Regions from separate parts of the Homo sapiens genome. Here regions 1 and 3 are each reported to be linked to region 2. Evidence: microRNA targets listed by miRTarBase, many of them from high-throughput screens and not tested one by one. Region 2 holds a microRNA gene; each other region holds the end of a gene's coding sequence.
What was found. The annotated mature microRNA hsa-miR-6841-3p reads ACCUUGCAUCUGCAUCCCCAG and lies in region 2 at 1,584-1,604, opposite strand. An mRNA with a match to its seed (bases 2 to 7 or 8) in the 3' UTR can be bound and repressed. Matches are read on the target gene's strand: a 7mer-m8 pairs with bases 2 to 8, a 7mer-A1 pairs with bases 2 to 7 and ends in A, and an 8mer does both.

Region 1: the mRNA of SHISA6 is a reported target of hsa-miR-6841-3p. Seed matches in the 3' UTR shown: 7mer-A1 at 3,077-3,083.
Region 3: miRTarBase lists ODF4 as a target of hsa-miR-6841-3p. Seed matches in the 3' UTR shown: 8mer at 3,432-3,439.

What each region holds. Positions count from the first base shown.
Region 1 is chr17:11,557,824-11,561,877 of GRCh38, forward strand. SHISA6 (shisa family member 6) reads left to right here. Exons shown (of 6, transcript NM_207386.4): 6 at 1-4,054. The coding sequence ends at 481. Among named protein-coding and RNA genes, the nearest start is that of DNAH9, 39 kb to the right of the region's middle.
Region 2 is chr8:24,952,213-24,956,278 of GRCh38, forward strand. It overlaps MIR6841 (microRNA 6841), which reads right to left and starts at 1,655; the gene lies at 1,584-1,655. NEFL (neurofilament light chain) reads right to left here. Exons shown (of 4, transcript NM_006158.5): 1 at 3,260-4,066; 2 at 1,969-2,093; 3 at 1,264-1,583; 4 at 1-740. The coding sequence ends at 598. RefSeq lists an enhancer at 1,951-3,150.
Region 3 is chr17:8,345,331-8,349,384 of GRCh38, reverse strand. It overlaps ODF4 (outer dense fiber of sperm tails 4), which reads right to left. Exons shown (of 3, transcript NM_153007.5): 2 at 3,908-4,042; 3 at 3,339-3,717. The coding sequence ends at 3,533. Among named protein-coding and RNA genes, the nearest start is that of ODF4, 7.5 kb to the right of the region's middle.

The sequences.
Region 1 (4,054 bases), not on the chromosome of region 2:
CCCCCTCAATGTCATCCAGATGTCCCAACAGAAGCCGTTGCCAAGGGAACGACCCCGCCGGCCCATCCGGGCCATGTCCCAGGACAGGGTCCTGTCCCCGGATCGGGGCCTGCCAGATGAGTTCAGCATGCCCTACGACCGCATCCTGTCCGACGAGCAGCTGCTCTCCACGGAGCGCCTGCACTCCCAGGACCCGCTGCTGTCCCCGGAGCGGACGGCCTTTCCCGAGCAGTCGCTGTCCAGGGCCATCTCGCACACGGACGTCTTTGTGTCCACACCCGTGCTGGACCGCTACCGCATGAGCAAGATGCACTCTCATCCCAGTGCCTCCAATAACTCATACGCCACCCTGGGCCAGAGCCAGACGGCAGCCAAGCGTCATGCCTTTGCCTCACGCAGACACAACACGGTGGAGCAGCTGCACTACATCCCGGGCCACCACACCTGCTACACAGCCAGCAAGACCGAAGTGACCGTGTGACCGGCGGGGCAGGGCCGGGGCTGCTGGGCGTGGCAGAGCAGAGCGGGGGCCGGGAGGGGCCAGGAGCAGAGCTTCTAGCCTTGCCACTCTCCCTTCCCTTGTCCCCTCTGTAGGAAGTGGGGGTGGGCCACCTTTGCCCAAAAAGCCATACCCCCGGGGACACAGCCCCGATGGCCTGGTCCAATACACTTAGACCCAGGACCAAGAGCAATCGCTCTTGCTCCTCCAGAAGAATCAGTGGGGAGTGAGGAGGGGGCTAGGCCCCATTCTCACCCCCGACCACCTTCACCAACTCCCTTTCCGTCCCGCGCCTCCTTCTCCCCATCCGGGGGACTCAGCTGCAGGTTCTGTCAGCAGAGAGACCCTTGCTTGACTGTGGTCTGAAGCTGCCTGGGTTTGAAGGGGCCAGCGGGTCCAATCAGTGGGCTGACCGGATAGGCTACTCGGTCTCATTCATTCATCTAGAACCGCATCACAGAAATCTCCTAGTGCCTAAAAACTGCCTGCTCGCTCTCTCAGAGCCAGGGAGCTGCTGTGTCCATAAGCACAATAATGATTCTTTTCTTGCCTGCTGGAACTCTCTGGTCCCCACTGAGTGACCCTTCCTTTGCTGACCCCTGAGGGCCCAACCCTGGCCCTGTGCCCCTCCCCTCAACTCCAGGACCAGGAGGGGTTCCCTTCCTTCAGCTGCCTCCCCATTGGTGGGAACTCCACCCCCTTCCAGCTGACTGCCCGCCCATAAGGACCCTGGGCCTGTCCTTTCAGCGGGCTGTGCTCCTTCCCTGGCCCTGAGGATTTCACCCTTGAGTTTTCTGGGGTTTTGGCTGTAGCCTTCGCAGAGGGGAGTAGCAATGGGGTGCTGGCCCTCCCAGACACCCGATCATCTCCGCACTCCCTCCAGGCCTCTAGACCTGACCATGACTGCCACTCAGGCTGCCTTCTCCACCCCTGCTCTGCTCCCAGGAGGCACCTGCGGTGGCCAGAGAGCCAGGGTGGGGAGGGCCACTGTGATGTGCGGGGTCTCGGGCTCAACATTCGCATCCTGCAGGGCTCCACCTGTTCCCACATGCACCTCCGGCAGGACCTAGACAGAAGTTTCTAGAGAGCAGCTTTTCAGCCCCCAGACAAGGAGGATGAGAGGTGGTTGTCCTGCATCCTCTCCGCTCATCCTTCCTTCCCCATCTCTGTCTACCTGCTCAGTTCAGAGATCACTCCTACTGCCTGTGTCCCCTTCCCCCACATCCTCCCTGCAACTTTATTCCTCCTAGCTGATCCTTCAGATCCGTGCCTCCTCTGGATCAAAGGGACAAAGACCTATTAGCAAAAGCAAACAAAGGTCCTCCAGGCGACTGGCCTAGGGGCTAACTGGGCAGGTCCCCACAGCATCATCCCTTTGTGCAGGCACTGGGGTACCTGGTAGACCATGGTCCTCAGCTCTGTTGGGGGACCGCCACTGCCCGCCCACCTCAGCCTCTTCCCCGCCTCCAGCCTGGGGGTTGGCATGGTGTGACGGCCTCCTGGGGAGGTGACAGTGAATTCAGCAGCATCCGCTCCCCCAAGACCAGAGAGCCTGGTGGGGGAAAGAAGGGGTTCCCTCATTCTCAGGGCCAGGGCACCCGCTGGGTTGGGGCTGGGGGAATCAACTCCAGGCTATTGGGTGAAGGTGTGATCCTAAAAACAGTCAGATCCAACAGCAGTGCCCTTATAAATGGGGTTTTACCTGCCCTCAGTTCTGCACTCATGGCCCTTTAAAAAGGCGAGTGTAGAAGGAGAATTTATTGGTGTCAGCCCTGGAGATTTTTAATCTAACCAAGTCCACAAACCACAGAGAAAGCAATGGACTGTGTCCTTTCACTGATTTCAAGAGTTCCAAAGCTCTCATCTCCTTCTCCCCTCTGCAGGGTGTGCCTCCCAACAGGAACAGGAAACCATCACCCTGGATCTTAGGGGGATGGAGGCTGGGGGTTGTGAAAGCCACTGTCAGACCCCACACTGGGGATGCATTCCTGGAGTCGTGCGGCTGGAAGGCCAGGGACTACCCTCTCTGCTTTCCTCCCAACAGACACATAAACCTTCTTAAGGGCTGGTCCCCAGGGGTTTATAAGAGTTTGTTCCAGAAGGTGAGGCTAAGAGGGTTGGAAAGGAAGAAGTGAGTCTGAATAGAGCAGGTGGCTCCCAGCTGGGCCCCTGAGCCCAGCACCTTTGAATCGTCTAATCTGTGGCCATCCCTTGGAAGGCAGGATGCTGGTGGTGAGGGGAAAGGACCTGAGTGGCTGAGAATGCCCTTCCCAGGTGTCTACATGCAGGTATACACCAAACCAGAAAGCTGATCCCATCTCCAGTGTCAAAGCTTCTCAGCACCAAGTTCTCCAGCCCCCAGGGTGACACTTTTCCCCAGGGGTCCTCCCCAAGCCCTGTCTCTGACAGGGTTTCTGTCTCTCTCAGGGGTTGTTGATGAGTTGATTCCAAGACATTTCTCATCCCAGCCTTACCACTGTCTGGCTGAAAGGCTCTGATGTCAGTTGGGTTGGAAAATTCTACTGCAATGCTTACTTCTTTTCAAGGATTTCTTCTGCTTCACCTTTGGGTCTAGAAGCAAGGAATGAAGGGAGGGAGAGAGGGAGGGAGGGAGGGGAGGAGGGAAGAAAAAAGAAGTAGAGATAGGTCTACAGACTTGCTCCAATTCAGTCCCACATTTCAAAATCCAGAAAACTATGTCATAGCTGGGACAGAGAGGTATCCCATTTATTCAGCTGTCCCATCCATCTTCATGGAACAAGCAAAGCCACATCAATAGGCAAGTTCACGTAGCAGATAAAAGAGGCTTCTGGGGCTGGAACCTAGATGCCATGATTTCTAGCCCAACCAGGCTGGTGGCCTCTACCATACATAGAAGTACCATCCACCCTTACAGTAAAAGCCTCCCTCCTGCTCACAAAGGAAGCCTAAAGCCCAAGATTTCCCTCTCCTTGTTTTATTCATTTTTGCACATCTCTGTTGCTCTAACAGAAATGAACTGGAATCTGCACAGGTTCTCTCCTGCCCTGAAAGTTCTGCCTGGTTTCCTTGGCCTCTGATGGCATTGAAGCTTTCACAATCCCTCCTGCATCTCCACCTTCCCTGTCTTGCTCCAGGCTCCTGGCTCCATGCCTTCCTGTGTCAAAAAGGCTTTGCCAAGAATTACTTCACCTCCTAACCAGGCTTCTGCCCTCAGGGCTCCCCCAGTGTCTTGGGAGTGTCTTGGGCCACACGACTGCCTCTTAGAAAGTTCCAACCTTGCCCCCAATTCAAATTTCTCCTCCCCTCTTTCCACTCTCCCTCCCAGAAACTCCTGATTTCCAGAAAACCTCAGATTTCCAGGCCAGGTCACTCATTCCTTCCTCTCATCTCCCTCTTCCTCCATCTACCTTCCTCCATTCACCTTCCTCCATTCCTAATTTCTTTTCCCTGGTCTTGCTATAATCTCCAGCTCTAAAAATCAGAGCTCTCAATGAAAACAATGGAAGAATAAGACATTCTTTCGGTCTTCTGTTTGCCTCACTGGTGTATCCTTCATCTCCTGCCCCTGTGAGT
Region 2 (4,066 bases):
CTGTATCCCTCAGAATTTCCAATTGAAGGAAGAAAAAAAAGTATTGGTAATTGTTAAAATTTCAACTTTTTAAAAAATTGGAGGTCAATAGTCCACTGGTATATACTTTATATTGGTGCCATCTTTAAGGTATTTTAATTAAGTAACAACCACAGCAAAAAATACATCATTCGGTATAACTTTATTTACTATTTATTGCACATAACTCAGGGTCTTTAATTGCTAACCACCGAAGGTTCAAAGGACTATTTTTCCATGAAGTTTAACATTAACATTAGTGAATTCATTTACTCATGTGGTGTTTTTTATTGTAAACATCTGAATGATTCACATTGCCGTAGATCCTGAACTCATAAGCGTGGTCCATGCACAGGCTGGCAGCAAGCCAGAAAGCCACTCTGCAAGCAAACAGATACTCTGCATAAAGAGGAAATTCATAGCACAACATTGAATGTCCAACCTAAGTCATCTCAGAATTATACATATATTGACTTTTTAATTCACATAGAATCTGGAACTCAACTGGTTGGTTGGTTGGTGATGGGGTTGACCTGATTTCGGGAGAATTATTCCTGAAATAATTAAGGAAATGGGGGTTCAATCTTTCTTCTTAGCTGCTTGTTCCTCCCCAGCACCTTCAACTTTCTTCTCCTCCTCTTCAGCTTCTTTGGTTTCCTCTCCTTCTTCACCTTCACCTCCTTCTTCTTCTTCTTTTGCTTCTTCAGACTCTTCCTTGGCAGCTTTAACATAAAAAGAAAATGTACAAAATGCAAATCCAGGGTAAGTCCAGTCAAAACATGTCTGCAAAGGTTTTATTTGCAAACACAACTGTCAGAATGCTACCAAAACCTCCCAGCTCCACTCTCTCCAAAAGCACATGTAACAGACAAAGCTTGCCATGAATAATTTGCCACTGAACACATATTTAAATCGAATGAGATCACTTCTAGGTATGGGAAGCTCTGCTCCTCTCCAAGACTTAACCTCAATATTTCTTTCATTATGTGTCTGGTATCTATTTTTGTTCTTTAGGACACCAACCTGCTGTGTTAAATGATTATATTAAAAAATGAAAATTTTGACCAATCACCTCATTCAGAGTAGATGCCTTAGGAAAGTTTTGCTAAACAAACAGAAAATTTATTTATGATTCTAATGTCATATATGAATAAATGAGCAAGGCTTCATTTGTCTTATCCACCTCCTAACAAATCTCCACACCCAGTTTACACTTGAAGTTGCAGGGGTTTTTTCTTATCATACCTTCTTCCTCTTCAGCTGCCTCCTCTTCCTCGGCCTCTTCCTTGTCCTTCTCCTCCTCCTCGGCTTCTCCTTCAGAGGGGGGCTCATCCTTGGCTTCCTCAGCCTTGGCAGCCTCAATGGTTTCCTCCACTTCGATCTGCTCCTCTTGGACATGGCTGGTGTAGTAGGACGGGAAGGAGCGGGTGGACATCAGATAGGAGCTGGTCTGTAAACCGCCGTAGGCAGATCGGCCAAAGACCTGGGAGCTCTGGGAGTAGCCACTGGTTATGCTTCCCACGCTGGTGAAACTGAGTCGGGTCTCCTCGCCTTCCAAGAGTTTCCTGGGGATGCAGATGCAAGGTGAGGTTAAAAAACACCTGTGTTTCACAACTTGCTCTGAGTACCCTAAACACAAAGGCAAGCAGGAGCAGGGCTGGGATTTATCAATACTTAATGCCTGGGGATCTTTTGATGGAGACCAGAAAAAATATAAATAAATCATCCTATTAGATTTAAAGTGTAATGACAAGATAAAAACAGGACTCCTAATTACAGGGTTAAATTCTTATATATCTAAATACCCTCTTCTTGGAAGAAGCCAAAAACTAACACTTCATTATTTCAAAAGGACTATTATTGAAGGTTTCTGATCCAACATAACTTTAAATGGGATCTGATTTTCTTCCTAAGGTTTAATGGCTGCTGTCTTTGCCCCTCTATTTTCACCTGTAAGCTGCAATCTCAATATCCAAAGCCATCTTCACGTTGAGGAGGTCTTGGTATTCTTTTAGGTATCGTGCCATTTCACTCTTTGTGGTCCTCAATTCATTTTCTAATTTGTTGATCGTGTCCTGTTTGAAGACAAAAATAAAACAAAAAAAAAATCCGAGCATAAATCCCTTCTATTATTTTACTGTAGTGTAGTTGCAAAGGCCTAGTTTCGATTAAAATCAAGGTGCACACCTTTGATAAAATCTCTCCTAGAATAACTTCCTGTATCTTTTGAAAAACCTTCATGCCTAAAATACCCAAGTTCATGAAGCCTGAGATGAAAAAAAAGATGGACGAAAATTCTGTTCTTCTGTTTCTTTACTTAATACTGTTTAATGATCATCATAAAATGCATGCAAACAGACTAAGTTGATAGAAAAACTGTGTCTCTCATTCACTGATTAACTCTTCTTTAGCTGGGTTACATGCCAGGAAACTAATGCCTTTCTTTATGAGAAGAAAATAGCCAGATGTAAACAAAAAAAAGAAAAAAATTATTTTCTATGAAATATTTCCTATGTATCTAAATTATTTTTTCTACTCCCCAGAAGAAGAAAAAAATTTCTACTCCCCAGAAGATGGAGATGTTTTAAAATGGAGATCTTTTTAAAATTGTATTTTTTCTACTCCCCAGAAGATGGAGATGTTTAAACAGAAATGTTGTAGAAGATTTTACACATAAAGAAAAAAAGAAAAAAAAAAGGTAAAAGGAAATGGTTTACTATGAACATCACTAGTTAACTACCTAAAACAATGTTGACTATTTTCCTGTCTACCTACTAAATAAAGGAAGGGAGTGGTTGGTAAAACTAGTCATAAAGCATGCTGGTCACAGTAATCCTTCAGAATTAATTGAGAGTTGTTCACTCTACTATTTATTAACTAGATGATCCGATAGTTGCTGCAAAGTAACTTGTGGTTAATGCAGGTCAGTAGAGAGCTGATCTCACTGCAGGCCGGAGGCAACGCCCAATTCCCACGTCTTCCCCTCCCCCACCCAACAAGGGCTGGGCAGCTTTAATGCGGAACGCCGGTGCAGCAGCACGGAGCACACTCCCAGACTACAGTGGCGCCCGCACTCACGCCCTTCAAGTGCCCCACCCCTCCCACACAGTGGCCAAGGAGCCAAGCCCTATCCCTAAGAGCTGCGTGCAGCCGCACCACCCCTGGTCTCCACTTTCTGGGCGCACCAACTCCCCCCCTTGCTCGAGTCCCCCGCCCCCCTGTGTTTCTGGCCGTGCCGCACCTGCATAGCGCTGATGTCGGCGTTCTGCTTGTCCTCCAGCTCCTGCAGCTGCTTCTCCAGCGCTTCATTCATGCCCCGGCATGCTTCGATTTCCAGGGTCTTGGCCTTGAGCAGACGACGGCTCTCGGACACCTCGTCCTTGGCGGCGCGCACGGCGTCGGTGTTCTTGGCGGCGCTCTCGGTCAGCACGGTGAAGCGGCTCTTGAACCATTCCTCAGCGTTCTGCATGTTCTTGGCGGCCAGCTTCTCGTACTGCGCGCGGATGTCCTTGAGCGCGGCGGAAAGGTCGGGCTTGGTCACGTCCATCTCCACGGAGATCTGCGCGTACTGGATCTGCGCCTGCAGTTCGGCGATCTCCTCTTCGTGCACTTTCTTCAGAAAAGAGATTTCGTCCATCAAGCTGTCGATGCGCTTCTCGAGCTCGGCGCGAGCGAGCGCCGCCTCGTCGGCGCCTTTGCGCGCTTCCATCAGCCGGCCCTCGGCGTCCTCGCGGCTCAGCACCTCCTCTTCATAGCGCGCCTGCAGGTTGCGCAGGGTCTCCTCCAGCCCTTCGCGCTCGCCCTGGAGCGCCTGCTTCTCGTTGGTGGCATCTTCCGCCGCCAGGCGCAGGTCGCGGATCTCCTGCTCGTACAGCGCCCGGAAGCGGGATGGCTCGGAGTGCTTCTGGCGCAGCACCAGCAGCTCGGCTTCCAGGACCTTGTTCTGCTGCTCCAGCTCGTGCACGCGCTCGATGAAGCTGGCGAAGCGGTCATTGAGGTCCTGGAGCTGCGCCTTCTCCTGCGTGCGGATGGACTTGAGGTCGTTGCT
Region 3 (4,054 bases), not on the chromosome of region 2:
AACACAAAAAAATTAGCCAGGCGTGGTGGTGGGCACCTGTAGTCCCAGCTACTCGGGAGGCTGAGGCAGGAGAATGGCGTGAGGTTGCAGTGAGCCGAGATCGCGCCACTGCACTCCAGCCTGGGAGACAGCGAGACTCCATCTCAAAAAAAAAAAAAAAAAAAAAAAAACTATAAGATTTTAATTAGGAGGAATGAGTTCAAGAGACCTATTGTACAACATGGTGACTATAGTCAATAACAATGTATTGCATTTTGAAAAACGTTGAGATAGTAGGTTTTAAGTGTTCTCACCACAAAAAATAGTATGTGAGGGAATGCATACATTAATTAGTTCAACTCAGCCATTCCACAATGTAAACCTATTTCAAAACATCATGTTGTATATGATAAAATAATTTTTAAAAGTTTTTTAAAATTTTTTAAATAATTTTGACAAATTATTCAGCTAAGCTGCTTTTACATTCCTGGCCTTCAGATATGATGTGAGATAATAAATATTTATTATTTTAAGCCACTAAATGTGGGGTAATTTGTTATCCAGCAATAAATAGCTAATACACCAGATCTTTATCAAAAGGGAAAAATTATATACAGACTGTGAGAGTGGCCCCCTTTATTTATGTTACCCACCTAGCCCCTGTATGCATTTGAGTTTGTGACCCCTACAAAATCACTAAGTCAGTTTCTCTAATTACATTATACATACGTGTGTTTGTACCTAAGGCAGAGACCATGACATTCCTTTATTTGGTGTCCCTTCCTCCAGGATGACTAGTTCAGTAAGTCCCCTAGTAAATCCTTGTTCGCTACTGGGGAGAGGATTAAAGTGGGATACAGAGTAGAGATTTGTGGAATATCTGTTGTGCCTAATTTTCAAGCCCTTGTATTATGTTCCTTGCTCAGAATCTTTCCTTTGTTAGGAATCTTTCCTGGGTTAGGAATGCTACAATTGCTGATCAGGTGTGGTAAGAACAAGAATCTCAGACAGGGCTCATATTAAATAGAAGTCAGCTGGGCGTGGTGGCTCACACCTGTAATCCCAGCACTTTGGAGGCTGAGGCGGGCCGATCACCTGAGGCGGGCAGATCAGGATTCAAGACTAGCCAGACCAACATGGAGAAACCCCGTCTCTGCTAAAAATACAAAATTAGCCGGCATGGTGGTGCATGCCTGTAATCCCAGCTACTAGGGAGGCTGAGGCAGGAGAATCGCTTGAACCTGGGAGGCAGAGGTTGCGGTGAGCCAAGATGGTACCATTGCACTCTAGCCTGGGCAACAAGAGCATAACTCCGTCTCAATAAATAAATAAATAAATAAATAAATAAAGTCGATCATATACATTAGGTTGAACCATATAAAATTGCCACATTTAACTACTAACACAACATATATGGTTCAATCTGCAGTGGCGCGATCACGGCTCACTGCAACCTCCATCTTCCAGGTTCAAGCGATTCTCATGCCTCAGCCACCCAGGTAGCTGAGACTACAGGCATGCACCACCACACCCGGCTAATTTTTGTATCTTTAGTAGAGACGGAGTTTCACCATGTTGGCCAGGCTGGTCTCGAACTCCTGACCTCAAGTGATCCGCCCACCTAGTTTTCCCAAAGTGCTGGGATTACAGGCATGAGCCACCTCACGCGGCCCAACCTAATACATATATTTTTAACATACCTGATCCACTCACAATTTGTCCCTGTGAGAGGTGACAGCGTGCTGGCAGTCCTCACAGCCCTTGCTCTCGGCGCCTCCTCTGCCTGGGCTCCCACTTTGGCGGCACTTGAGGAGCCCTTCAGCCCACCGCTGCACTGTGGGAGCCCCTTTCCGGGCTGGCCAAGGCCGGAGTCGGCTCCCTCAGCTTGCAGGGAGGTGTGGAGGGAGAGGCGCGAGCGGGAACCCGGGCTGCGCGCGGCGCTTGCGGGCCAGCTGGAGTTCCGGGTGGGCGTGGGCTTGGCGGGCCCTGCACTCGGAGCAGCCGGCCGACCCTGCAGGCCCCGGGCAATGAGGGGCTTAGCACCCGGACCAGCGGCTGCGGAGGGTGTACTGAGTCCCCCAGCAGTGCCAGCCCACCGGCGCTGAGCTCCATTTCTCGCCGGGGCTTAGCTGCCTTCCCGCGGGGCAGTGCTCGGGACCTGCAGCCCGCCATGCCTGAGCCTCCCACCCCCTCCGTGGGCTCCTGTGCGACCCAAGCCTCCCTGACGAGCGCCAACCCCCTGCTCCACAGCGCCCAGTCCCATCGACCACCCAAGGGCTGAGGAGTGCGGGCGCACGGCGCGGGACTGGCAGGCAGCTCCACTTGCAGCCCCGGTGTGGGATCCACTGGGTGAAGCCAGCTGGGCTCCTGAGTCTGGTGGGGACTTGGAGAACCTTTATGTCTAGCTAAGGGATTGTAAATGCACCAATTGGCACTCTGTATCTAGCTCAAGGTTTGTAAACACACCGATCAGCACCCTGTGTCTAGCTCAGGGTTTGTGAATGCACCAATCAACACTCTGTATCTAGCTGCTCTGGTGGGGACGTGGAGAACCTTTGTGTCTAGCTCAGGGATTGTAAACGCACCAATCAGCGCCCTATCAAAACAGACCACTGGGCTCTACCAATCAGCAGGATGTATTGTGGTTTCATCTGGAGGGATAGACATGACCAAGATCAGCTATGGATGCTCTCCTAGGAGGCTGGCCTCTCTGGGCAACATGTCCAAAGCCTGATGGGCATTGCCAGCATTCCCCAAGCTAACTTTAAAACCCAAATATGCAACTTACCTTTTGGTCTTAGGACCTAACCCTAATGCTTTCCTTTGTTGCCATGTTTTATTCCTGCTGTTACATGGTGGAGGGTGTGGGAGGCTTGGGTGGAAAGCTATAGCAGCCTGGGGGGATGGTGGTAGTGGTGGTTTCCAGGGCACAGGCTCTATGCGCTCTGTCATCGGAGCTGGACACAGAGGGTGGGACTGCTGCCCAGGACACACACCTGGGCTGACCACTTGTGCTGTGGTGCTCCTTGTTTAACCTGCCTCTTATCTTTGAGCCATTTGGCTTTTGAATCCTTCACTATGCTTAAGCCAACAAGTTGGCAAGTGATATCTGTCTCCTAATCAGCTCTACCTCCTCCACCCACTAACTAGCAAATGTTGGGTCAGGGGTAACAAAGTAAAAAGAGGTTTAGCTCTCCAGAGGCGTTTGCCCATGTACAAGTATGTTCTGGTAGAGGTTGGGCAGGTTTAGGCACTAACGGGTGCCAAAAGGCTCCTGGGCAGGAAGAACTGGAAAACAAACTTGTTCTTTCTCCCTTCCTCTCCCTCCTCCTCTAGCTTGCCTCAACAACAGCCAGATATGAGAAAGAAGAGACGGACAATTTATTCCACATCACTCAAGCTCAATCAAGGCAGGGAGAAAGCAGAGGAGTGCAAAATCCTCCCTTTCTCATTCCTTGCAATGATGAGGACCAACCTATTCAAGGGCTGGGGGAGGATGAGGAGATGGGGTCAGATGAATGGACAGAACTTGGTGCCAGGAGTTCAGAAAAGATTACACATGTGTATCCTTCTGCTCAGGATCCAGGACTCCCTCCTGGGTGATGGGGGTGTCTGTGATCGTCTGTGCCCTTGGAGATTCTTCTACTGAGCCGAAACTGCTGCTGCAGGACACGGCACCACTGGGGTGGCTCAGAATCAGACTCCAGAAACTTTTATGGTTGAAGTAGCAAAGGATCGCTGGGAAAGGACAGGGACAGGGGAGAGGAAAGTTGTGACTGGGAGGTTAAGTGACAAGTAGGGTGAGACCAAAGGGAAGATAAGACCCTAAAAATCTAGCCCTGGGGATTGCCAGCCTCTTCCCTCCACACTTTCCCTGCCCTACCCTACCCATGTCGCTTCCTTCCCCCAGGGCCCTCTGGCCACTCACCGCAGGTGAAGTATAGGATAAGCACCAGCCAACCAATGAAATAGCTCCAGCCTATGGGGATGGATACATTCCTTTCCAACTCGAAGATCCAGATGTTAATGGGGAATAGCATGAGGGTGGAGAAGATGAAGGTGACTAGGAGACAGG